Linked DNA regions of Homo sapiens: regions 2, 3, 4 and 5 are each linked to region 1. Evidence: fine-mapped expression QTL. A gene starts in region 1. Each other region holds a variant in brackets. All regions are shown on one strand. Distances are between the middles of the regions.

Region 1 (5,101 bases):
AGGCAGGAATGGAGCTCCCAGTGTGGGTGCCTTCTCTTCCTTTACCCTCCTCCCCTGGAAGCAGAGGGTGAGAGATTTGCCCAGTGCAGAGGGCCCTGGTTAAGGTGGGGTGGGAAGAGGTGCCAGCCAAGCTGCAGATGGGACGGCCTAGGGAGAGGAGGGATACCTAGCTCGTGGGTGCATACATCCCCCTGTGCTGGTTCATGGGCATTAGTGGGGTTGCCTCCCTGTGCAGATGCATGGGCGTGTGTGAGATGTGTAAACACCTCTGATGGTCCCTGAGGAAGGGGCAAGGCTGGCAGAGGGTTATGGGGTAGAAAGGCTCATCCCTCTTTGCCTTCTCCCTCCAGCTAGGCTGGGCACATCTGGGCACATAGGAAGTCCCGGGTTCTTTTCTTGGCTTTGCAACTGATCCCGGGCGTGACCTTGGGCCAAACCCTTAACTCGTGCCCTGGGGCTCTGTTAACATCGCCTCCCAAAGGAGAGAAGAGGCCCTACTGACCACTTTCCAGGCCTGCCTCAGGGTCCAAAGGGGAAGGGAAGGAAACCGGGGTAAAAGGGGTCGGCACCGCGACCTTCGAGAACCCGCATGCTGTTCTCCACCAGGTCTCTCAGTCCTCCCTGCCCCAATCCCCATGCCCGCCTCCGCGACCCTGTGATGCCTCCCTTCTTGCACAGGAGCAGTGACCTCAGCACTTACTTAATCCTCTCCCGGCGCCGAGCTCAGTTGGAGAGGCTAGGGGTGGTAGTGACTGGCAGGAGGCCGGGGCGGGGGGAACCCCCAAGCCCGGCGTCTGGGGCTGCGGGTCCGACCCGAGATCCGCCCTCCCTGCAAGCCCCGAGCCGCTGGCCAGGCCCGCTACTGCGCACCAGCCGCATCCGCGAGCGCTGGCTCTGCCGGCCTGAGCTAGGGTGGGTAGGGCCGGGACCCACGGCGGAGGTGGGGCCGGGCCGAGCAGCCTCGGGGGATCCCCGAAGCTACAGCGCCTTGCCTCCCTGCACGCTCCGCGCCCCCGGCCTCCGATTGGCTGTCGGGCCTAGAGCCCGCCCAGAATTGGACCGTTCGCTTGTCGCTCGGGTCTGGCTCCACCCCCAGAGGGAGCCTAGAACCTGGTCGCAGTTTTTAGAGACTACCCTCACCCCGTGGCCTGCGCCGAAGTTGGGCGGAGGACAGTGGGTGGCCAGGCCCTTCCGGGCCAGAACTCGGGACCCCTGCCAGCTACCCGTGCCAGGACAGACTCAAGCCCCCAAAACGCGGATGGATGTACAGAGGAGACTTGGGGAGAGCACTGGACTGGGAGTCCTTGGGCCTGCACTGAACTCTGGCTGACTTTGTGACCTTGAAGAAACTGCTTTTCCCTTCCTGAACCTTGGCTTTCTACTCAGACGGGTCCTCTGGTGTGAGGGTTCTAGACGAAGATGGGGAATCTTCGTCTACAGAAGTTGAGAGTGGGGTGGATTTATTATTGGGCACCCCGACCCAGGCAAGTCTACATATACCCTCACAATAGCTTCCATCCACGGCATGATCAGCTCAGGGAAGGAGCCCTCAGATACTCCTGATCCGCCGGTTTTCAAAGTAGTTTATGGGAGTCACCGGGTAGCCTGGTACAAATGCAAACGCCCCTGTGTCTCCCGGTCTGGGAAGGAGGCAGGGAAACAGCATGTTTAATAGCAGTTTAAGGCCGGGCGTGGTGGCTCACTCCTGTAATCCCAGCACTTTGAGAGGCCGAGGCGATGGATCACCTGAAGTCAGGAGTTCGAGACCAGCCTGACCAACATGGTGAAACCCTGTCTCTATTAAAAATACAGAATTAGCCGGTCGTGTTGGCTCACGCCTGTAATCCCAGCTACTTGGGAGGCTGAGGCAGGAGAATGGCTTGAACCCGGAGGCCGAGGTTGCAGTGAGCAGAGATCGCGCCATTGTACTTCAGCCTGCGCAACAAGAGCAAAACTCCGTCTCAAAAAAAAAAAAAAAAAAAAAGAAAAAAAGAAAAAAAAAGTAGTTAACAGTGTTCTAGTTAACAGTACTTTCTGGTGGGGAGATGTTGACAAGACACACTTTGCGAGACGCTGCCGAGTATTTTATAGAAGGCGCAACTGAGGTCCAGAGGTCCCAACACCTGGAGGAGTTGCCAATAGAGTCAAGATTCGAATCGGTAAAAGAGCGGCCCCTGGGGTCTGGCCGCCAGTCGGCCGACCCCCTGGTGGGCTCGGGCCACTGACCTCGGTAGGGTCACGACACTGGGACTGGACCCCAAAGTTGGACCAGCCTTCAACACTGGAACCCGCCCATGCACAGCTCCACCCGGCCCCCAGGCTAAGATAGACCACGCCCCCGGACATCTGGTCCCCGCCGGAACACCCGGGCCCTCTGGTGACACGCCCCCTTTCCGGCAGGCTACTGGGCTCCGCCCACACACCTCCCGGCCTGGTTCCTAAACGCCAGCTCGGAGCAATCCCCTTGGGCTGGAGCCAAATCCCTGCTGTGATTTTAAGGAAGACCGGCAGGTCCGGGCCCCCAAGGGTCAACCCCACACACATCCCCGCACTTTCCTGTATGCAGGCCTGCGAGCGTAGAGGGAGTGGAATTCACAGCCTCCCCACCCATCCGCAGGGGTCTCCTGGGAGGAACCCACCAGCGATAGGAACACTGAAGCTGGGCTACGGCGTCCGCCCGAGCCTTTTCTTAAAGGCGCCGACCCCGGAAGCGGGGCGTCCGAGGGAGCGCGCGACGGGCCACGCACGTCCGGGCGTCCAGTTCGGGGCAGCTTCTCCGGCTGGTGGGTGGGTGGGGCAGCCTTTCAGGCAGGTATGCATGGGAGGTGGGGATCGGAACGGGGTGTTTCGACTGCAACCGCCTGGAGACCTGGCCGGTACCATTCTCCATAGTGCAGATGGGGAAACAGGGTTGGAGAGAGGGGGCCTCATCTGGGTCGTTAACAATGCGGTGCGTAGCTGTGAGGGAGTTTACACTTCTGACTTCGGGCCTTGGCTCCTGGGACGGCGCACTGGTGCAAGAGCCGCTTCTGGAGTCTGGTGGACTCGGGTTCGTGTCTTGCCTGGGACAGTCTTTTTTTTCTTTTTTTTGAGACGGAGTCTCTCTCTGGCACCCAGGCTGGAGTGCAGTGGCATGACCGCGGCTCGCTGCAACTTCCGCCTGCTTGAACTGGGTTCAAGCAGTTCTCCTGCCTCAGCCTCCCAAGTAGCTGGGACTACAGGTGCGCGTCAGTATGCCCGGCCAATTTTTTGTATTTTTAGTAGAGACAGGGTTTCACCATGCTGGCCAGGCTGGTCTCGAACTCCTGACCTCGTGATCCGCCCACCTCGGCCTCCCAGAGTGCTGGGATTACAGGCGTGAGCCACCGTGCCCAGCTTGCCTGGGACAGTTTCTACCTGAGTGACGCTGGGCAAGTCGCTTCCCTTCTCTGACCCTACTTGTATCTGAAGATGTGGCACTTAGCAGGTGCTTAATAAACGCTAGTTTGGACTTTTATCTGGAAGCAAAGGGGACCGCTGATTTTAAACCTTCAGTTAAACTTGCTTGTGACCTCTTTAAATATACAATTGTAAATTTTTTAGTTGGTGGTTTACGCTGATGTCCCGGATTATAGGTTAAATTAGGAGGAAATTTTCAGCATGTACATCCATGACAGTACACACACAATGTCAGATTCAAAGCTCCCAATTAAAGGCAATCATCTGCCTCTTGTAACATCAGTTAAGATCATGTAACATCTGGTCCCTGCTGTGTGTTGAGCTGCCTCCCAGGCCTTGGATATTCATAGACTAATGCATTGCTTGCCATGGGTTTGGTGTGATTTTCCCCCATCTTATGGATTAAGAAAGTGAAAATCAGAAATAATGACTTGCTCAAGATCACACACGCTAGGTTAGACACAGATCTGTCCTGTCCCCACATATGTGCCCTAACCTACCACCAACCCGTTTATTAGCAGAGACTGAGCTATGGGCTCAGCCCACTCCAGCTAAAAATGTGAAGAAAACGTAAGTGGCCAAGACAAGAATGATCAAATAGGTGGGTAAGGCTCTAAATGGAGTCAAGGGGGTGTCAGAGCAAGAGCACAACTATTCTCAGGCAATGTATTGGTAGAAGGGGGGGTGTCATACAAGGCTCACCTGCTTTCCTGGTTCCTCTCACTCCCAGGGTGGCAACCAACTATATCTGAGGACCAGAGCCATTTTGGGGCACCAGAGCTTGTGACCTCTCCATCTCCACCCAGCTGGGTCCAGGGGCCACTCTCAGCACTCACCTCAGCAGCTGACATCATAAAGCAGACTTGGGAACCTGGAAGCACTCTGGAGAACCTTTCCCTGAGACATGGAGCTTTGGGGCCGAATGCTGTGGGCCCTCCTGTCTGGCCCAGGGAGGAGGGGAAGTACCCGGGGCTGGGCCTTCAGCTCATGGCAACCCCAACCACCTCTGGCTGGGTTATCCAGTGCCATAGAACTGGTCAGCCACTGGACTGGGGTCTTTGAGAAGAGGGGTATCCCTGAGGCCCGGGAATCCAGTGAGTACATCGTGGCTCATGTCCTTGGAGCCAAAACAGTTAAGTTTAGTGTTGTCAAGAGGACAGGAAGAGGGAGGAGGGAGGACTTGGGGAAGGGATATCCAGGTTTTCTGTTCACTAAGAGTGCTTAGCTGAGACTGATGGGATTTTTCTGAAGGAACGTCTTAGCGCCTGGCACACACTGTAACAGTTTGTTGGATGAATGAATATATCTCTGCCTAAGTGTTCTGGGATAGACACCTGGAAGCCTGGTGTTAGCTGTGTAACCTTAGGCAGGATGCTGCCCCCTCTGGGCCCAGATGATGAGAGGGTTGGGCCTCCAGACCAGTGCTGGGCAGGCATTATCCACATAAGACACCTGGGTTGGGGGCCTTGGGCCCAGTGAGCCAGCCACTTATATTCTCTGTGGGGACAGTTTCAGAGCCTGAGGCCGGCACTTTGGACCCAGCCCTTGACCTCTCAGCAACTACAGTGTATCCGGGAGCTGAGTAGCCGTCGATTGCAGAGGTGAGCACCCATGGATCAGACCTGAAGGATGTGTTCAGGGAGCAGCAGTCCAGCCTCCCCTA
Region 2 (5,101 bases), 21 kb after region 1:
GCTGAGCTCTGAATGCATTTCTGGGGACCAGGGGCCTAAAGAGCTTTTTGAGCTGAGTTACAGGGTTAGAGAAGCATTGAGGCTGCTCTTTCTGGCTGCCAGGAAAAAGGGGCTGGGGCAGGAGGCTGCAACTTGTCCAGGGTCTGGAGGTGGCTGGGGTCTGTAGCAGTGGCATCAGATATTCTGGAACAGAACTGACTCACAACCATTGCTGAGGGTTTGGATGTGAGATGGCCAGGACCACAGTGGGCCCAGGGATCTGATTGGGACCTGGGGGAAATGGGGCCACCCTGAGTTGGAGACTGGGGTGCTGGGGGGAACAGTCGGGGAGCTTGACAGTGTAGGATGCCTTCAGAATATCCGAGAAGCAGCATTGGGGCGTCTGGAGATGCAAATGTGACCATGTGGGGACACAGTCCAAAGGCAACCCTTGAGGTAGAGTTGTGAAGACCACTCTCCTAGACCTGAGTGCTGGCGACAACAGTACCGGGCATCTGCAGTGTGTAAACTAGTGCCAGGTGCTGCACACACGTGGTCATAAATCCATCTGTTGGCACATCAGGGATCCCTTCCTTGGCCCACTGTATGGATGAAGGGACTGAGGCTTAACATGCCCAAGGTCACACAGCCAGCAGCTGGCCATGCTGGAGTTTGAACCTAGTCCTCTGACATCCCAGTCAGGAGAGGCGTGAGCAGGCTGCCGAGGCCAAATGCAGCCCAGGGCCTCAACCCCCCAGAGGGGCCTCAGGAGCCAGTTAGGTGCCCCACAGCCAACGTGGGCTCCAGGGTGAAGGGGAAAGTGATGAATCAAACAGAAAGCAGCAGACGCAGACTGAGCTCTCTCCCTGTCGGCCCGGGTGCCAGATTTTCACGCCCACAGCAAAGGGGCCAGGCAGAGCGCTAGGTGTGGGGCAGGAGAGGGCAGCGAAAGTGGCTGCCACTGAACCCAGACTCTGATGTACTCCGGATATGGGTGGCGTGGACTGACAGACACCCAGCCCAGTTCCAGACTGAAAGTTGAGTCTGTCTCAGCATGTGAGGATATGAAGTTTGCCTTGTCATGGGGAGCATTTCAGGTCCCTAGGCCTGTGAGGTTCTGGGATGAGGCACCAGATGGATGTGTCTAAAAACCCTTGTTGAAGGCACTCCACAGCTCAATAACTGACCATTGCTCACTACTCTCTTGGCCCGCACTGAAAGCCACTGTTTCTTCATCATTTCACTCAGCCCGCCTGTCTCAGCCCCCCAGAACTTTGGAGCTCATTCTTTCAAAGTACATTTCATGTGCAACTGAAATACATATTTTTAAAAAGATAAAATGAGCATCTAGTTAGCAAAAATGTATTTTGCAAGTGCAAATTCTTTCTTAGCATACAGTCCATCAGGGCGAAGAGCAATGAACACAAATGTTTGAACTGGGGGCTGGGATGGTAGTTGTAGTCTTATGTTGGTCTCAATGTCCATTTTCTTTCAGTGTTTGATTTTGGTAGCACAGGACAAAGTGACCGCTGATTCTCACAGATAATTGTTTACAAATGCTAGCACTGTGTCTGAAGCCCACCTTGCAGTCTCTTTGATTGACAGGGACAGCAAGAGAAGCCTTATCTCAAGCTCAGCACAAACCCTGTTCTCTGAGCACATAGGAAGGATTCTAATGTGTCATAATTTGGTGCTGTGCCCATTTGAGTCTGTGTGTGGTTTTTAAAATTGGGTTTTTTTTTTTTCAATAATTAAAAATATGAGCTGGGCATGGTGGCACATGCCTGTGGTCCCACCTACTCGGGAGGCTGAGGCAGGAGGATTACTTGAGCACAAGAGTTTAAGACAGCAGTGAGCTATAATAGCGCCACTGCACTCCAGCCTGGACATCAGAGTCAGACCCTGTCTCTAAAAAAATAATTTTAGGCCGGGCGCGGTGGCTCACGCCTGTAATCCCAGCACTCTGGGAGGCTGAGGCAGGCAGATCACCTGAGGTCAGGAGTTCGAGGCCAGCTTGGCCAACATGGTGAAAATCCGTCTGTACTAAAAATACAAAAATTAGCCGGGTGTGGTGGCTCACGCCTGTAATCCCAGCTACTTGAGAGGCTGAGGCAGGAGAATCGCTTGAAACCGAGAGGCAGATGTTGCAGTGAGCCAAGATCACGCCATTGTACTCCCACCCAGGCAACAAGAGCAAAACTCTGTCTCAAAAATAATAATAATAGGCCAGGCGCAGTAGCTCACGTTTGTAATCCCAGCACTTTGGGAGGCCAAGGATCACAAGGTTAGGAGTTCAAGACCAGCCTGGCCAACACAGTGAAACCCCGTCTACTAAAAATACAAAAATTAGCTGGGTGTGGTGGTGGACACCTGTAATCCCAGCTACTCGGGAGGCTGAAGCAGGAGAATTGCTTGAACCCGGGAGGCAGAGATTGCAGTGAGCCAAGATCATGCCACTGCACTCCAGCCTGGGCGACAGAGCTAGACTCCATCT[CA/C]AAAAAAAAAATTTAAAAATAATAATTTTAAAAAAATGTTTTAAAAATGAAAGAAAAGGAAGAAGGGAGGAGGAAGCCAGAAAGAAAGGGGCCGTGCAGGGTGGCTCACACTTGTAATCCCAGCACTTTGGGAGGCTGAAGCAGGCAGATCACCCGAGCTCAGGAGTTCAAGACCAGCCTGGCCAACATGGTGAAACCCTGTCTCTACTAAAAATACAAAAATTAGCTGGGCATGGTGGCTCATGCCTGTAATTCCAGCTACTCGGGAGGCTGAGGCAGGAGAATCGCTTGAACCCGGAAGGCGGAGGTTGCAGTGAGCTGAGATCACCTCACTACCCTCTAGCGTGGGCGACAGCAAGACTGTTTCAAAAAAAAAAAAGAGGAAGAGTGAAAGGATGGACGAAAGGAACTCCTGTGGGGTGGGGCATCTGGGGCACTTGATGCCCCACGTGACCATTCCCTTCCCGGAGGTCTGCCCCAACTGCTCCAGCCCCCATAGCCTGAGGCTCCCGGCACCTCCCACCCAGCATCTGTCACAGCAAATCAATCTGGGCCACATGCTCCTGAAAGGTCCTTGGGAGCCCCACCAGGCTCCAGTGTGGTTGCCCCAAGTACTCCATGAGTAGACATGGGCTAGGGACTTACCCAGGCCCTTGGTGGTGCCTCCAAGGGTGGAAAGACTGGGGGACCCTGTGCCCCTGAAAGCCCAGAGTTTCACTGTTTCTGGGTACCTTCATTTCTGGGAACTAACTGTGCTTTGGAAAGAGAGAAATGAGAAGCAAAACCCTAGGGCCCCAGTATCACCCCTCCTTTCTGTCTTCCTTCCGCTTAGTCACAGCCAAGAGCTCAGTACCTCAGCCTCCCTTAGGGCCACTAGGTGGGGCAGAATACAAGGTCAGGCGAGGACACAGCATCTGGGACGAGTCCTTTCCTGCCAACAGCCTCCGTGAGGGGTCCTAGGATTGCTGAGGGCTGAGACCACCTTCCCAAAGTTGGGGAAGGGGTAACTGAGGCTGTCATCTGGCCTGTCTCACCTGTCTTACCTGCAGGCCCATCATTCCTGCACAGTCATTTATTAGGCACCAACTGTAAGCCAGGCCCAGGAGGTTGGATGGTTCAGGTGGGGCCCTGGCCTTGCAGAACTCATGGACTTGCACATAGACTCCTCCTGACAGGCCCCTCATGAGTAGCTGGGTCCTTACGATTTTTCTGGTCAGCAGTGGGGAGCCGTGGGAGGCATTAGGCTCTGGGGAAGCCAAGCAACATCACATGTACACAGCATAGAGACTCACACACCCTTGCACAGGCACCCACACGTACGTGTATGTTCATGGGCGTGGGCCTTGAGCACCGGGTCCCGTGAGCCACTGCACCTGGCCAACTGGGTCCATGTCCATAATCATAGGTGTCCACGCAGGGCCTCCCTTGGATGGGGGAGCTCCAGGCTCTGGAAACCAAGCCAGGGTTGCATGCATGCACGTGTGTGTGTGTGTGTGTGTGTGTGTGTGTGTGTTTGTGTGTGTGTGGTGTTACTCTGCCTCAGAGGCCCAACCACTGCCTCCAAGTCATGGGAGCGCAGAGCCCATGTAAGCTCAAACACTGCCCCATGTCATAGAAAAGAGGGCCAAAGATGGGGCTGGGCGTGGTGGCTCACTCCTGTAATCCTAGCACTTTGGGAGGCTGAGTCGGGTGGATCACGAGGTCAGGAGATCGAGACCATCCTGACTAACACGGTGAAACCCTGTCTCTACTAAAAATACAAAAAAATTAGCTGGGCGTAGTGGCGGGTGCCTATAATCCCAGCTACTCAGGAGGCTGAGGCAGGAGAATGGCCTGAACCCGGGAGGCGGAGCTTGCCGTGAGCGGAGATTGCACCACTGCACTCCAGCCTGGACGACAGAGTGAGACTCCGCATCAGAAAAAAAAAAAAAAGAAAGAAAAGAGAGCCAAAGCTCAGAGAGGGCCCATGACTTGCCCAGTGTCACACAGCAAGGTGAGGCAGGTCTGGGAGGGAAATGAACCAGACCTTATCCACATCCCTGACCTTTTTGGCTTCATGCTTGGAGCTTGGCACCCCCTGAGAACCACACTCCGTTGACCTCTGGGAAATGGAGGCTGGTGATTCTCCCAGCAAACCCGCCTGGGAACTAACCACAGGCTCCTCCCAGCTTTCACTAACCAACCCCAGGATTTCCAATACCGGTGCTTTGCTTAGCTGTACTGGGCACCTGGAACTCATTCTCCCTGCCACCCTCCCTCCCTGATTCCTTGAATAAAATTCAGCCTTCCAAATTTTACTCAAATGCTTCTACTTTCTCTGACCCTCTGGAACTTTCCCCTGTTGCCAGCCTCCCTCCAGCATCTGTCCCCTCATTCCCACCTCCTGTTTACTTCCCTACAAAAGCCAAAAATTGACCCCTAGAGCCTGAGACTCTGGATGGAGGATCTTCGTAGCTGGGGCCACACCCAGGCCAGCCCAGCCCTTCAGACTCTGCCAGTCACAGTGGGGTGGGCCCTGGAGCTGGAAGAGGAAACAGAGCCTCTGCCAGAGTCACCACCTGCCCCCAACCCTACTTCTCCTCCGAAGGCCCAACAAGGTCCTGTGCGCCCTCCAAGGGCAGAGGAGG
Region 3 (5,101 bases), 940 kb after region 1:
ATGAGGAGAGGGAACGCCACATCATTTCCCAAAGGGTGTGTAATTATGTCTGATTACATCCACATCCACTACTCTCACTTTACAGAGAAAGAAACAAATTCCACAAAGTCAACAACTTAAGTGCCCACATCGATCAGTGGGCACAGATAAAGAGGAGATAAAAAAGCAAGCATACCTAGCCTCTTTTGCCTCAGGTTCCTGGGGTTGGAAATCCTTCCAGGAGGAAGAGTGGAGTCAACATTGGGGAGAGAGTCTGTATTGGCCTTGGCTCCAAGCTCTCAGAAGCCCCTGAACATTTTTTTTTTTTTTTTTTTGAGATGGAGTCTGGCTCTGTCGCCCAGGCTGGAGTGCAGTGGCACAATCTCAGCTCACCGCAAGCTCCGCCTCCTGGTTCAGGCCATTCTCCTTCCTCAGCATCCTGAGTAGCTGGGACTACAGGCGCCCGCCACCACGCCTGGCTAATTTTTTATATTTTTAGTAAAGACGGGGTTTCACTGTGTTAACCAGGATGGTCTCGATCTCCTGACCCCGTGATCCGCCCGCCTCTGCCTCCCAAAATGCTGGGATTACAGGCGTGAGCCACCGCGCCTGGCAACCCCTGAACTTTTATTTATTTATTTATTTTGAGATGGAGCCTCACTCTGTCCCCAGGCTGGAGTGCAGTGAAGCAATCTCGTCTCACTGCAACCTCTGCATCCTGGGTTCAAGTAATTCTCCTGCCTCAGCCTCCTGAGTAGGTGGGATTACAGGTGCCCGCCACAACACCTGGCTAATCTTTGTATTTTTAGTAGAGATGGGGTTTCACCATGTTGGCCAGGCTGGTCTCGAACTCCTGACCTCAAGTGATCCACCCACCTTGGCCTCTCAAAGTGCTGGGATGACAGGTGTGAACCACCATGCTTTGGCCACTCCTGGATTTTTAGAAAGACCATTCTACAGGATTCAGGGAATAGACCATTCTACAGGATTCAGGGATCTCTGGCCTGACCCATTTGAAGGTACTCTGGAGACTGCTGGGGCAGACCCTCATGATGACTCAGGTCAGAAAGAGTTTACCACTCTATCAGTTATTTCATTTCAAGAAGGCCTGGGCCTGGCACGGTGGCTCACACCTGTAATTCCAGCACTTAGGGAGGCTGAGGCAGGTGGATCATTGAGCCTAGGAGTTCAAGACCAACCTGGGCAACATAGTGAGACTCTATCAGTATAAAAAATAATAAAAATAAAAATAATTCTTACAGCCAGGCGTGGTAGCTCACGCCATAATCCCAGCACTTTAGGGGGGCAAGGCAGGTGGATCACCTGAGGTCGAGAGTTCGAGACCAGCCTGGCCAGCATGACAAAACCCCATCTCTACTAAAAAATTACAAAAATTAGCCAGGTGTGGTGGTGCATGCCTGTAATCCCAGCTACTCAGGAGCCTGAGGCATGAGAATTGCTTGAACCCAGGAGGCGTAGGTTGCAGTGAGCCGAGATCACACCACTGCACTCCAGCCTAGGCAACAGAGTGAGATTCTGTCTCAAAAAATAATAATAATAAAAATAAAATTAATAATAATTTTTTAAATTAAAAAAAGAGAGGGCCTACAGAAGAATGGCTTTGTTGAATGGAACAAATTCAAAGGTCAGAGACCCACCACACCAACCGAAGTAAATACTTCTACCATGGGCGTATCCCTCTTGGAGATGTTGCCAGATACAGCCTGGGGTACCCAGTTAGGCCTGGGAGCCAAAGTCATCAAGACGGGAGTTTCTAGGTGTAGAGGGTGTCATGGGCTCTTACCGTGGGGAAGTTCTTCATCCCTTAGAGGTGGCGATGTCTCTGTGTGAAAAGTCTCATGATGTTCCTGAGGGGAGCCCCCTCTGCCCTGCTCCTGCTTCAGCAGGTCCAGGCTTCTGACAAGATAGCCTTTTGTGAAGTCACAAAGCTGGTTGCCTCCCCACAGGACCAGGGACCAGGACAACCAGGGACTAGTGGGCATGACTTTAGGGGAGAAGGGACTTCACAAGCAGCCTGTAGGCTCTGGAGAGGGGTGTGGGGTCTGGAGGGGCTCACTGGACCAGTCTCAGGCTGTAGTGGGTGAGGAGGGTTATTGGAGACTCAGGATGGGATCAGTTTCTCATGTCTCAGTCATCGCCAAAAGATAAGAACAGTTGGGGCCTGAGCCTGTATTCCTTGACCATTATCCCATCCGTTGAGACCCTAGGGCCAGAGGAGCACCCTTGCCCCTTTTGAATATATATAAGGGTCCTGATCACTGATGTTCTGGGTCATCCCTGGAAAAAGGAGGTTAAGGCCCCTGAGCCAGGGACCAGATCTTCTCCTCAGTGCCATCCCTCTGTGACCATTCAGTTTCTTTTCTTTTTTCTTTTTCTTTTCTTT[C/CT]TTTTTTTTTTTTTTTTTTTTGAGATGGAGTTTCACTCTTGTCGCCCAGGCTGGAGTGCAGTGGTGTGATCTTGGCTCACTGAGACCTGCACCTCCCGGGTTCAAGCGATTTTCATGCCTCAGCCTCCTGAGTAGCTGGGATTACGGGTGTCCGCCACCACACCTGGCTAATTGTTGTATTTTTAGTAGAGACGGGGTTTCACCATGTTGGCCAGGCTGGTGTCGAACTCCTGACCTCAAACGATCCACCTGCCTTGGCCTCCCAAAGTGCTGGGATTACAGGCATAAGCCACTGCACCTGGCCTGACCATCCATTTTCTACCTGTTTCCTGGGCAAGCACATTCTGCCAAATTCTGCTACATTGAAAAGTGGCCCTGGTAGCCTTGGGGCACCCCTACCTGTTGGATTACGCAGAGGAAGAAGAGTGTCAAGAGAAGAAAGTGGAGCGCTCAGTGCCCACTCTCTCCAGAGGGTAGAGACTCCCACCTCCTGAAGAGGCAATTCAGGGGAGAAAACAGAAAACAACCCGGGGAGAAAGTGTCATTCCACAAAATGTGGAAACTCAGTTACTGCCTTGGAAGGTCACACTTCGTAAGCGGGGCATGGGGGCAGCCACTGAATGGAAACCTTGTTTTAAAAACAAGTTGCAAGGCATGGGTGGCTCACGCCTATAATCCCAGCACTTTGGGGGGCCGACGTGGGCAGATCACCTGAGGTCAGGATTTCAAGACCAGCCTGGCCAACATGGTGAAACCCCGTCTCTACTAAAAATAGAAAAAATCAGCTGGGCACTCCTGTAATCCCAGCTACTCGGGAGGCTGAGGCAGGAGAATCGCTTGAACCCCAGAGGCAGAGGTTGCAGTGAGCCAAGATCATGCCACTGCACTCCAGCCTGGGCGACAGAGAGAGACTCCCTCAAAAAAAAAAAGAAAAAAAGAAAAAAAAGAAAATCAAATGAACAAAAATGTGTCTTAAGTTAGGATTCCCGAGCCCTTGCCCTGTGCCTGGCCCTGTACCCTGTGTCTTCAGTGCTGCGGAGAATGCAGCACAGACCCTGCCCTCAAGGCTTACAGTCTAAGGCCTGAATGACTATGCCCAGCTCCCTCCCTTAAAATGAAGGCTGCTATTCCCAGAAGTCAGGGGCAGCCTGGAACCCAAGAGCCTTGTATCCCTGTCCAGGGCATTACATTTCATGAAGGCAAGAACAGACCAAATCCTGTGGACTTTTGGCAGGTAAGCTAAGACAGCATCTCACTGCCTCTCAGGGTCTGCAGGTCTGGGTCTTGGTGTCATTAATTCTGTTGAGAGTTGCTCACCACCATGTGTCTCCTCCAGACCAAGGAGACATCTTGGCTATTTTGTATTCAAGCCATGCCTCCACTGAGGGTTTCTGCTGTCTGCTCTATGGAGCCAGCAGGCATCCTGTGGGACAGGTCTGGTGTGAGGTACAAGAGACTAGAGGTGACCCTGGGCAAGTTTCCTCATACATCCCCCATAAGGAGGGCTTTACTAGATCTATGATTTTCTTTCTTTCTTTCTTTCTTTTTTTTTTTTTTTTTTTTTTGAGACAGAGTCTTGCTCTGTTGCCCAGGCTGGAGTGCAGTGGTGCGATCTTGGCTCACGGCAACCTCCACCTCCCCGGTTCAAGTGATTCTCCTGCCTCAGCCTCCCGAGTAGCTGGGCACACGCCACCATGCCCAGCTAATTTTTGTATTTTTAGTAGAGATGGGGTTTTGCCATGTTGGCCAGGCTGGTCTTTAACTCGACCTCGTGATCCACCCACCTCGGCCTCCCAAAGTGCTGGGATTACAGGCGTGAGCCACTGTGCCTGGCCTAGATCCATGATTTTCAAATTATATTAGTATTATGATTTTACCACAGAGTCTTTTTAGTCCCACTGAAATCTTGTATACCTCTTCATTAAGTAGAGAAAAGGAATGATGCAAGGGATTCTAGGTCATGATGTGGCAGAAAAACTCCTAGTGTTACAAGGAATGCAGTTTAAAAACCATGCACCAGCCGGCTGAGCACGATGGCTCATGCCTGTAATCCCAGCATTTTGGGAGTCCGAGGCGGGCAAATCACAAGGTCAGGAGTTCAAGACCAGCCTGGGCAATACGGTGAAATCTCTCTACTAAAAATACAAAAAAAATTAGCCGGGTGTGCTGGCGGGTGCCTGTAATTCCAGCTACTCCGGAGGCTGAGGCAGGATAATTGCTTGAACCTGGGAGGCGGAGGTTTCAGTGAGCAGAGGTCGAGCCACTGTACTCCAGCCTGGGCGACAGTGTGAGACTCCGTCTCAAAAAAAAAAAACCATGTACCACATGGCTTCCAGACCCTTTCAGGTGCTGTGAATCTGTGACTGCAAAGTCCAGATTATGAAAGATGGGAACAGGACAAAGAATGCCACATGTAGTGGCCACCTCAAGAGTTCTGCTCTGAATATTTCCGCTGCAACTACTCATTCCTGGTTCCAGTTCAGCTTATTTCCAGCCACCAGCGTGTCCCCAGCCCACCTCTCACCTGGCCCTCTGCTCCTACCTTTGTTCCTCTCTTGCAGGCTCTGAAATCAGCATCTAGGCCTTAGGGGCTCAAAGCCCACATGGGTTCTAAGTCAGGAGTACAACAGTCACCTCTCTGTACCTGAATCCAATAGGCAGGAGACAGGAGGCTTTCTCCAGGTAACATTCATCTTTGCCTAACTCTCTTCCGAGATC
Region 4 (5,101 bases), 570 kb after region 1:
GTGGCTGTTCCGCAATGAAATATGCATGCACAGCCTTGCCAGGTGTCTACTGTTAAAGTGAGGGCATTTATTGGAAAATAATGAGACCCTGCAACTTGGAATAGGGACATGGGGGAGGACCCTGATGAAGCTGGGGACACTGAGTTTGTGAACTCTGATGAACCTCTTTTGCCAGAAAGAACACCGTCCCCATCCCCAGTCATGTCAGCATCCCCTCCCCGACCCAAGCTGCCATCAGCCTTTCCACCTTTGTCTGAGGAGATACATGCTGTGCTGCCTGAGACAACACTGATGGCCTCCCCTGAGGCAGTTGCCAGGCAGGATAATGTTGATTTTCCTCAGGACCCACCCCCAACACCCTTGTTTACTTATAGAGCTGTAACTAGACTAAGGTCCTGGCAGGTCCCTAGAGGTGAGGCTGAGAGTGTGACCCATGAGAAGGTGCACTACACTCGAAAAGAACTGCTTGAGTTTTCTTTATTATTATTATACTTTAAGTTCTAGGGTACATGTGCACAACGTGCAGGTTTGTTACATATGTTACATGTGCCATGTTGGTGTGCTGCACCCATCAGCTCATCATTTACATTAGGTATTCCTCCTAATGCTATCCCTCCCCCCTCCCCCCACCCCATGACAGGCCCCATTGTGTGATGTTCCCCACCCTGTGTCCAAGTGTTTTCATTGCTCAATTCCCACCTATGAGCGAGAACATGCAGTGTTTGGTTTTCTTTCCTTGCGATAGTTTGCTCAGAATGATCGTTTCCAGCTTCATCCACGTCCCTACAAAGGACATGAACTCATCCTTTTTTATGGCTGCATAGTGTTCCATGGTGTATATGTGCCACATTTTCTTAATCCAGTCTATCATTGATGGACATTTGGGTTGGTTCCAAGTCTTTGCTATTGTGAATAGTGCCACAATAAACATACATGTGCATGTGTCTTTATAGTAGCATGATTTATAATCCTTTGGGTATATACCCAGTAATGGGATTGCTGTGTCTAATTTATACAAACAGAAATCTAGAGAACAGGCATGGGAATGGATATTAAGGGTGTGGGATAATGGTGGAAGGAACATAGAGTTGGGTCAGGCTGAATTTATTGATTTGGGCCCACTAAGAGGGAAGGGTGCAGGATTGAGAAGGAACTTCAGAGATGATAGAATGTTCTTTCATCACCCAGGTACTAAGCCTAGTACCTAATAGTTATTTTTTCTACTCATCTCCCTCCTCCCACCCTCACCCTCAGTGGGCCCCAGTGTCTGTTGTTCTCCTCTTTGTGTTCAGGTGTTCTCATCATTTAGTTCCCACTTACAAGTGAGAACATGTAGTGTTTGGTTTTCTGTTTCTGCGTTAGTTTGCTAAGAATGATGGCTTCCAGCTCCATCCATGTTCCTGCAAAGGACAGGATCTTGTTCTTTTTTATGGCTGCATAGTAGTCCATGGTGTGTATATACCACATTTTCTTTATCCAGTCTACCATTGATGGGCATTTAGGTTGATTCCCTGTCTTTGCTATTGTGAATAGTGCTGCAATGAACATATGCCTGCATGTGTCTTTATGGTAGAATGATTTATATTCCTTTGGGTATACACCCAGCAATGGATTGCTGGGTGAAATGGTAGTTCTGTTTTCTGAAGACCTGATAGGGGCTGTATAATTACAAAAATGTTTTTATAATTACTTGAGAATATGTAACAGCAGATTTACTCATGTGTCTGTTTTATCTTAGACAAAATGGAAAAAGCCAATTTTCTGGGATTATTTGCCATTCAAGTTTCTGCTTGTTCTTAATCAAGCAAATCATTACCTATGTCTCTTTGGTGGGAATGTCATGAACCTCAAACAAACTGTGTGCCTCCAGAAGAGCTGGAATGGGTACATGGCATAGACTTTCTAGTTGGAAGAGTCAGAGTACATGTAGGTAATAGGAATCCTGGAGATAGATTTCTTTCATGCAGCACCTCTAGGAGCCTATGCCACACAGACACTCTTCATCTCTGAAGCAAGATGTGGCTTGCAGCATTTCCCAGGTATATTTTCCCATGGAACCGAATTTTCCACACCCCAAAACTTTTTTTCAGTACTTATTTCATGAGAGGAAATAACAGATAAAGCATGGGCTTTGAGTTCAAACCTTTCCAGATTTGAATTTCAACTTTACTACTCTCTACTTTTTCATCTCAAGCCAGGAACTTTGCCTCTCCAACTCTCAGTTTCTTCAGAGGTAAAATACCTGTTGTAAAGATCAAGAGCAATTAGGCAAGAAAAGAAATACTTAAAACAATGCCTGGTGCGCAAAAAAACACTCACTCAGTGGCTGCTGTTGCAGCTACTACAGCAAAATAATCAATACCAGAGCTGTATCTCCCTCTCACATATTTTCTCTGA[C/G]TTTCAGACATGGGTTTTTAGCTGCCTGTTTTCTGTTCACGTATGTGTTCCACAGAGACCTCGAATTCAGTATGTATACCCAAAATTTATATAATCTTCTTTTATATCTTCTCTGGTTGATATAACCACATCCAGTCAACTGCTAAATCTGGTCAGCTGTGTCTCCTAAATATATCTCACATCCATTCACCTCTCCTCAGTTTTAAGACTGTGTCATAGTTTGCCTGGGCTGCTACTGTTGTCTCTCTGGAGTTCTTTCTATGTTACCAACCTGGCTTCTGCATTGCAGCCCAGATGCTCAGTCTAAACACTTAGGGGATCATGCTGCTTCTCAAGTTTGAACTTTCAGAGCCTCTCTAAGGCCCACAATAGGGTTTTTCAAACTTGCTAGCCCTAATACCAGTTGAAGTCCTTAAAATTATAGATTCCTGGACTGTCTCCGGGAATCCTTTCCTCTAGAGATTCTGATCCAGATGATCTTGGGTTTGGCCCAGGATATTTCCATTTTAAGTAAGCTGCCAGGTACTACTAATGGTAGTCAAATTTGGAAATTCTTCACACGTAAATAATCCACACTGTGTTGCATGGCACCTCTGGCCAGCTATCCAGTACTCTTTTTTTTATTTTATTTTTATTTTTATTTTTTTGGAGACAGGGTCTCACTCTGTTGCCTAGGCTGGGAGTGCAAGGCTGCATGCAGCCTTGACGTCAGCAGGCTCAAAACAATCATCCCACTTCAGCCTCCTGAGTCGCCAGGGCTGTAAATGTATACCATCATGTCCAGCTAATATTTAAGTTTTTGTAGAGACAGGATCTCGCCATATTTCCAAAGCTGTTCTTGAACTCCTGGGCTCAAGTGATCCTCCTGCCTTGGTCTCCCAAAGTGCTAGGATTACAGGTGGAGCCATTGCATGCAGCCTCTAGTACCCTCTTAACTCATGCTCTGAGCTTCCCCATACAATAAGCTACATCATCCTTTAGAAAGTCTGCACTTTGCACTCTCTCCTCCTGGAATACCTTTTTCTTCATCTCTAATTACCCCTTACCAAGTGGCAAAAGCCTTGCAGTCTTTCAAGAACCTGTTCCAGTACCTCCTTCAGGCAGCCTACCCTCAATCCAGTAGTTTGTCGGTGCCCCCCGCCACCTTTTTTTTTTTTTAGATGGAGTCTCGCTCGTCACCCAGGCTGGAGTGCAGTGGCACGATCTCGGCTCACTGCAGGCTCTGCCTCCCAGGTCACGCCATTCTCCTGCCTCAGCCTCCTGAGTAGTTGGGACTATAGGCACCCACCACCACACCCGGCTAATTTTTTTTTGTATTTTTTGTATTTTTAGTAGAGACGGGGTTTCACCTTGTTAGCTAGTATGGTCTTGATCTCCTGACCTTGTGATCCACCCGTCTCGGCCTCCCAAAGTGCTGGAATTACAGGCATGAGCCACCGTGCCTGGCCTTGTCAGCCCCTTTCTATGCAATTATAGCATTTTCACATCGTGGTGCAATTTGTGGTTTATGTGTGTCTCTGTTCCACCAGACTTGAGGACAGGAATTATTTCATTTCTATAGCCTCAGCATTTAGCTCGGTTTCTGCAAAATGATAGAAGTTAGTGAATGTTTGTTGAAAAAATAAAAGGGAAAGAGGAAGGCTAGAAAGAACCCTTGCATTATACCAGTAGTTACAAAAATGTTACTTGGAGTCCTGAAGTGTCTCAAGGAGAACTGGTGGTCAGAGTGGAGGCCTAACTATGGAGGATTCCTGCATTATCCCCCTCTCCTGAAACCCTCACCTCTGATTCAACCCAAGAAAATCTGCTTCTTAATTTTTTATATGTTGGTGAACAGAGTAAGGTTCTGTTGAAAAGAAGAGAAAAGCTGACACTATGTATACATATGTAACTAACCTGCACATTGTGCACATGTACCCTAAAACTTAAAGTATAATAATAATAAATTAATTAAAAAAAAAACAGCTTAAAAAAATAAATTTGGAAACCATAGCCCTGGACCATCGTTTGCCTTTATAAAACCCCTTTTTTGTGTGTATTTCTGCTTTCTGTGCTTTAAAATAAAGTGGGAAAACTTAAAGAATTTGAGAAATAAAGCCAAGTGATCTAAATTGGAAAATGAATCTATGAGGGGATATTAGATATTTCCTACTCTGTTGGGTCATACAGTGTAGTATAACCTTGGGGCTACTTGCTTATTTTCAAGCACCTGGCAGGTTATCATGAGAGAGATGCTAAGCAGTTGGCATCCATATTCATGGAGGACCGAATGAGGAACATAAAGATTAAATTGAAAAAGTTGGGAGAATTCCTCTAAATTTATTTGAGAAAACTGCTTCCGTTTCCAAAACAGAGTCTTTAGGATGTACCCTCGTTGAGGATAAGAAACTCGTCTCTGCCTTAGTGCCGGGCATGGGCTGATACCTCATTGGCAGTCACCAAACATTTGTTGAAGGGATGCATGAATTGCCATCAGTGAAGGCATGTACAAAACGCAGTGCCATCCAAGAATTACAAATCTCAAAAAAGGTAGTTATCTTAAAATTAAGACACCATTAGACTTGTCACAGATTGAAATTATGGGATTCATTTGTAAGAACTTGATCAATAATATGAAATTAATGTAACTTCATATGCTATTGTCTATAGTTCATCATCATAAAAACAACTAAAGGTAGAGTAGTTGTCTTGTAATATTGCTTAC
Region 5 (5,101 bases), 55 kb before region 1:
GCATGAAGTAGTACCTAGTTAAGCAAATATAAGGAGCATCTGCTCAGGAGGGAGGATGCAGGCCATGTCGTATGGCAGGAAATGGGGACAGGGATGGGAGTTGCGGGGGATAGACAGGACAGGGGCTGGCCTGGGACCATTGCCCCCAGGTGGGCTAGCTGAGGGAGGGGCATCATTGCCCCCAAAGGTGTGGGGTGGGGAAAGGGAGGCTATCCAGGGTACAAGTCCAGAAATGACTATGGCTTGTCGGGATTCTGGGTCCCGTTCCACCTGGGCCCTGAGTATGGGCAGATAGGAAACATCCTGGCCACTCTGGAGATGACTGAGCCACAGAATCCCTTTCAAAGGAAAGCAGGATCTCTGTGGACCCCTTACTGCATTCCATAGTTGGGCAAACTGAGCCTCAGAGGTTTGGGGTAGGCCCAAAGTTACCCAGTAAGCAGTAGAGACCAGGTCCCAGGTCCCCCTGGGTCCTTGCTTGGGGCCATCCATGGCCTTGTCTGATGGTTAGAGCTGGCCCATGTTCCCATCTTGGGTGTCTGTTTTCCACTTGCTGATAAGGAGCTTATACTGAGGTCGGCAGAGCAAGGCAGGTGCCAGGACAAATGCAGAGAGCAGAGGGCTCCTCGGTGGCCTAGACAGACCCTAGAGATCTGGGAGCCCCCAAGGCAGAACTAAACCCTCTCTCCTCCCAGAGAGTTTTGCTGGGCTCCAGGCCCCAGAAGGGGTGCTTGGGAGGCTGTACCTGCACAGGCTAGTGAGAGTCCAGAAGAGAGTGAGGAGGCTCCTACCTACTTATGTTCCCACCAGCTGGAAGCCCCTCCCCTCCCCCTGCCATGGCCTTGCTGAGCCCTGCTTGGCAGCTCCAAAGCACCATCTTGCTGAGGTCTTAATTTCCAAATGAGTGAGGAGGAGCTTCAGGGAGGCAGAGGCGGGGGGAAGGCTCACTGAGAGAGACCTCAGGGAGGATCGCCATGTGGACTCAGCAGTTTGCAACAAGCCACCAAGGTCTTACCTGAAAATCTAAGCTGGCTGCTGTGGGGTGGCTGGGAGCAGGCCATGGACAGGAAAGACTGGCAGTGAGTCAGGCGTGGGGCAAGAGTGGAAGGTAGAACCCAAACACCAGGGCAACGGGTATGCCAGGCATGCTCACCCCTCAGAGTGTAGGGCATTATCAAGTGTTGATGAATGAATAAATGACTATGTAATCATATGTCACCTCCATCACGCTGAGGCCTGGGGTCAGGCCTGGCATGTGTGACCCCTGCCAGTCCTGCAGGTCAGATCCCTGGGAATAAGATGAACGCTGGCTGGGCACAGTGGCTCACACCTATAATCCCAGCACTTTGGGAGGCTGAGGCGGGCGGATCACCTGAGGTCGGGAGTTTGAGACCAGCCTGACCAACACAGAGAAACCCCGTCTCTACTAAAAATACAAAATTAGCCGGGCTTGGTAGTGCATGTCTGTAATCCCAGCTACTCAAGAGGCTGAGGCAGGAGAATCGCTTGAACCCGGGAGGCAGAGGTTGTGGTGAGCCGAGATTGCGCCATTGCACTCCAGCCTGGGCAACAAGAGTGAAACTCTGTCTCAAACAAACAAACAAAAAAAAGTTGAACCCTGCCTTCAGAACTCCATGTAACCTCCTCCCAGGCTGCCCTGCTGTTCCCTGCCAGCCACATCTCTCTGATTAGATTCAGAGCTCCCTGTAAGCCCCAGGCACTCAGTGGTCCCCTCTCCCAACAAACGCACACGCACTACTGCTGTTCTCCTGGACGTGCCAGGGTAGCTGCTGCCCATTCAGGCTGGTCTGGCTGTCGCATAGAAAGCTGGACAGCTCTAGGGTCTTCTTACCCCAGGCTCTGCTCACCCCTCAAGCCCCTAAGCCTGTTCTTGGCACAGGCTTGGGACCACAGGGACCACACTGTGACCTCACTGAGTCTTGCTGCGGTACCCATAAGTAGGCCCCGAGGGGCTAGACCCCAGGCTGGAGTGCCCCTGTTCCTAACCTCCCCTGGGGACTATATGTTCACTGTACAGATGAAAAGGGCTTGCCCCAGGTCACTGGGGCTTGTGATTTTCAAGTAAGAATTCCTGATGTTTCCTCCAGAATAATAACCCCCATCACCACTGCCTCCTCTTCAACCCCTTCATCCCCACTTCCTACCAGGCACTGGGCCAGAAGGATGTCTAATTCTCAAAACAGCTTTCCAGGTAGGTAGCATTAGCCCCATTGCCCCATTGGGCAGATGAAGAAACTGATGCTCCAGTAGTTCTGAGTGGCTTGCTTAAGGCTGGCTGGGAAGCAGCAAAGATGGGCTCCAACTCCCGATCCAGCTCCTCCTGGGTTGATTCATGAGGAGCATATTGTAATCTTTTTTTTAAGTAAGCCCATTTTATCTCAATATGCAAAACTATGCACATGGAATGCAAATTATTAGAAAAGCTCCCAGGGTGACAGTGCAGCCTTTGGGTTTCACCAATGATCCAACAATTCGGCGGCCTCTCTCTCACTTTAGCTGAGCCTCTCTACTCTGCCTCCCCACCAAGGTATCTCTGGGGAGGGCTTTGCAGGAGAGAGTTGAAGATTTGTTGACACACGGCCAGTGAGGTGAGCAGCCTCAGACCCCATGAATGAGGCAAGGGTCCTATGCCCAGCCCCCTTCCTGCCTCCCCTGCCCCTTATTGGACTCCTTGAGGCTTAGAGTTGAACATCTGCACTTTGGTGTGCATGAGGACAGGGGCTGCTTTCTGCTGCCAGAATATGGGAAGGCTTTCTGGAGGTGGAGTAGAGAAGGACATTCCAGATGAAGGGAACATTGGAGAACTAGTAAAAGGTGTTGAGGTAGGATCTGCTCCAGGGAAAGCCAGTGAAGCATTGAAGGTCTGCTCTGTTTCGAGGAATGAGGCTTCTCCATGATGAAAGAGCCCTTTCCATCAGAGCAGGCAGGACAGGAGGCTGGGAGGCGGGTGACCAGGCTAGATCCAAGCTGCGGCCACAAATCATGGGAGAAATGTCCCATGAGCACAGGGTGGAAAGGACAGTCATCCAGCACCTTGGCCTGATTCACGGCTAGAGAGGCAGCAGACATCCACCGGGCCCAGGTAACCTTGAGCTTGTTAGCTAACGTCACTGCATCTCAGTCTTCTTGAAGGTAAAATGGG[T/A]TCAGTAAACTCCACTCCTCATCTTCCTCTCAGAGCTGCTGGGAGGCCACTGGGGGCTTCACCCATTGCTGAATCATAAAGCATTTATGGAAAGGCTGTACTCGTGGTGTCCTCCAGACCTGCAGAGGGAGGCAGGGCAGGAATGCCACCACCACCCCTACACACACACACTCCCCGGTGTCTGGCACATGCCAAACACCCCCACTCAGCCAGCTAGGAACAGAGCCCCAAGCCAAGGTTAGGGCCAGGCTCAGGGTCCATTTCAGTGATAGGTCAGCAAGGAGGGCAGCACGTGGAGGCCTCCCTGCCTGTTTCTGAGGTGCACAGGGAAAGTGGCGTGGCCTGCGGTGAGCAATGGTGGAAGCAGAGTCTCAGAGAGAGAGACTCCAAGACAGACAAACAGAAAGGGCCCAGAGGTGGGTGGCTGAGCTCAGTATGGAATCTTACCTTCTGTTAGAAAGGCCCCGAGAGGGTCTGGTAAATTGATCAGACAGGGGCAGCTTCCAGGCAGGGAGGGGATCCATGGAAGCTGGGTCTACCCATTCCAGGACACTGCATTTCAAACTGATTTTAAAGCAACAAGGAATTATTTTTAAACTAAATTGGATGCAGATCCCTAATATATGCCAGATTGAAGTAGAGTTGTTGTGATGGAGGGTGGTCAGGGGGTTGAGAGGCTCCCAGGACAGAATCAGGGTGCATGCCCTGCACTGGAGGTGGTACAGGTGCTGGGCAGAGGCTTCTGCCCCTGACACGGTCTGGACTGTGGTTTCCACTCTCCTAGGATCACCTTGTGAAAAGCCTTTTACAGCCGTGGGCTTCATGTTCTCATCTGCAGAACGGGAGCTCTTGGTACCCCGGCCCAGCTTGCCCCTCAGTTGCCAGAACAACTGTGGGGGCAGAGAGCCCTCTCTCTCAGGCTGCCCCACTTCATGGAGAGGGGGGCAGGTATTTATTCATCCTCCCTAAGAACTGAGGTCTTGGCGAACTCATCTGCCTCCCAGCTCAGCTAATTGGAATCAGTTCCCCATTTCTCCTCTGCCTCTCAGTAAATTATGCGAATTCCCCCAGTCAGAGGCCTGGGTGATGGACAGCCCTGTCACAGCAGCCTAAGTGTTTAGAGAGCAATTGTTCTGGGGAAGGCTGCCATTCCTCAAGCGTGTGCTGTGCGGGGGGCCACGAGGAGAGCCAGCCCGGCCCTGCTGCTGCCCCTGTCCCTGCCCCTGTCCTTGCTCCTCTGCCCGCCCCTTTCCCCACCGCTGCCCCTGCCCAGCCACCAGAGCCTGCTCCGCCCAGCCAGCCAAGCATGGGCTTCCGGTACGTTATCCTTGTCATAACAATCAGAGCAGCCGAGAGGTATTGCTCTTAAACCCTCAACACACATTTTTATAACCTTTCTGTTTAATAAGAAAGAGACAGCTCCAATTAGCTGGGAATATTCTGCCGAAATGGGATTATTTTAAAAGCTCTGGCAATATTACAAAATAGCTTCAGTAAGTGAACAGCTGTTGCCGGGCCCCGCCTGCCCTGCGCACTGCGCCTCCCGCACCCTCCCATCAGGGCCGGGCCCCTTGCCCCTCCCCAGGGGCTTCAGAGTCCCTGAGAACTGTGCTCTGGCCAGCAGCCAGGGGCCCCTCTTCAGGCAGCAGGATGTAAGTTGTGGGTGTGGAGCACAGAGTCTCCATGGCCCGGACTGGAGGGGAGGGACAGTTCACACCGTGCCCTGAGGCTGGACTATGGCCTTGCTGGGGTCCTGCTTGTCCCAGAAAAAGTCATGTGGGGACCCCAGCGTCATCTCTAAAGGGCCTGCAGCCTGCTCTGCTGCCCCTGTAGCCTGGACATGTTCCCTACTTTTAGCAGGACTCCCGTCTGCTGCCCAGGCCTTCGCAGGCTCTCTGGCTCTCCAGTCAGGGGGGCAGGGCAGGGCTGCTTGTGAAT

What was found. PIP is the estimated chance that this variant, and not a neighbour inherited with it, causes the effect.
Region 2: its variant is fine-mapped to the expression of HEMK1 in blood mononuclear cells (TOPMed, PIP above 0.99).
Region 3: its variant is fine-mapped to the expression of HEMK1 in prefrontal cortex (BrainSeq, PIP 0.95).
Region 4: its variant is fine-mapped to the expression of HEMK1 in monocytes (TOPMed, PIP 0.94).
Region 5: its variant is fine-mapped to the expression of HEMK1 in whole blood (TOPMed, PIP above 0.99).

The regions. Positions count from the first base shown.
Region 1 is chr3:50,566,763-50,571,863 of GRCh38, forward strand. It overlaps HEMK1 (HemK methyltransferase 1, mitochondrial release factors N(5)-glutamine), which reads left to right and starts at 2,760. Exons shown (of 11, transcript NM_016173.5): 1 at 2,760-2,812; 2 at 4,169-4,570; 3 at 4,948-5,039. The coding sequence starts at 4,343. C3orf18 (chromosome 3 open reading frame 18) reads right to left here and starts at 985. Exons shown (of 6, transcript NM_016210.5): 1 at 701-985. RefSeq lists a silencer at 617-1,126 and an enhancer at 2,565-2,684.
Region 2 is chr3:50,587,711-50,592,811 of GRCh38, forward strand. HEMK1 (HemK methyltransferase 1, mitochondrial release factors N(5)-glutamine) reads left to right here. Exons shown (of 11, transcript NM_016173.5): 11 at 1-5,101. Among named protein-coding and RNA genes, the nearest start is that of HEMK1, 21 kb to the left of the region's middle. RefSeq lists enhancers at 2,748-2,867, 2,878-2,937, 3,008-3,097, 3,118-3,227. The variant CA/C (reference allele first, on the strand shown) is at 2,474.
Region 3 is chr3:51,503,742-51,508,842 of GRCh38, forward strand. LOC105377085 (a long non-coding RNA gene) reads left to right here and starts at 3,329. Exons shown (of 3, transcript XR_940835.3): 1 at 3,329-3,617. It also overlaps a transcript of DCAF1 not described here. The variant C/CT (reference allele first, on the strand shown) is at 2,384.
Region 4 is chr3:51,132,693-51,137,793 of GRCh38, forward strand. The region is part of intron 9 of DOCK3 (dedicator of cytokinesis 3); the gene reads left to right. Among named protein-coding and RNA genes, the nearest start is that of MANF, 250 kb to the right of the region's middle. The variant C/G (reference allele first, on the strand shown) is at 2,398.
Region 5 is chr3:50,511,435-50,516,535 of GRCh38, forward strand. No RefSeq gene overlaps it. Among named protein-coding and RNA genes, the nearest start is that of CACNA2D2, 10 kb to the left of the region's middle. RefSeq lists enhancers at 396-1,341, 4,186-4,824. The variant T/A (reference allele first, on the strand shown) is at 3,164.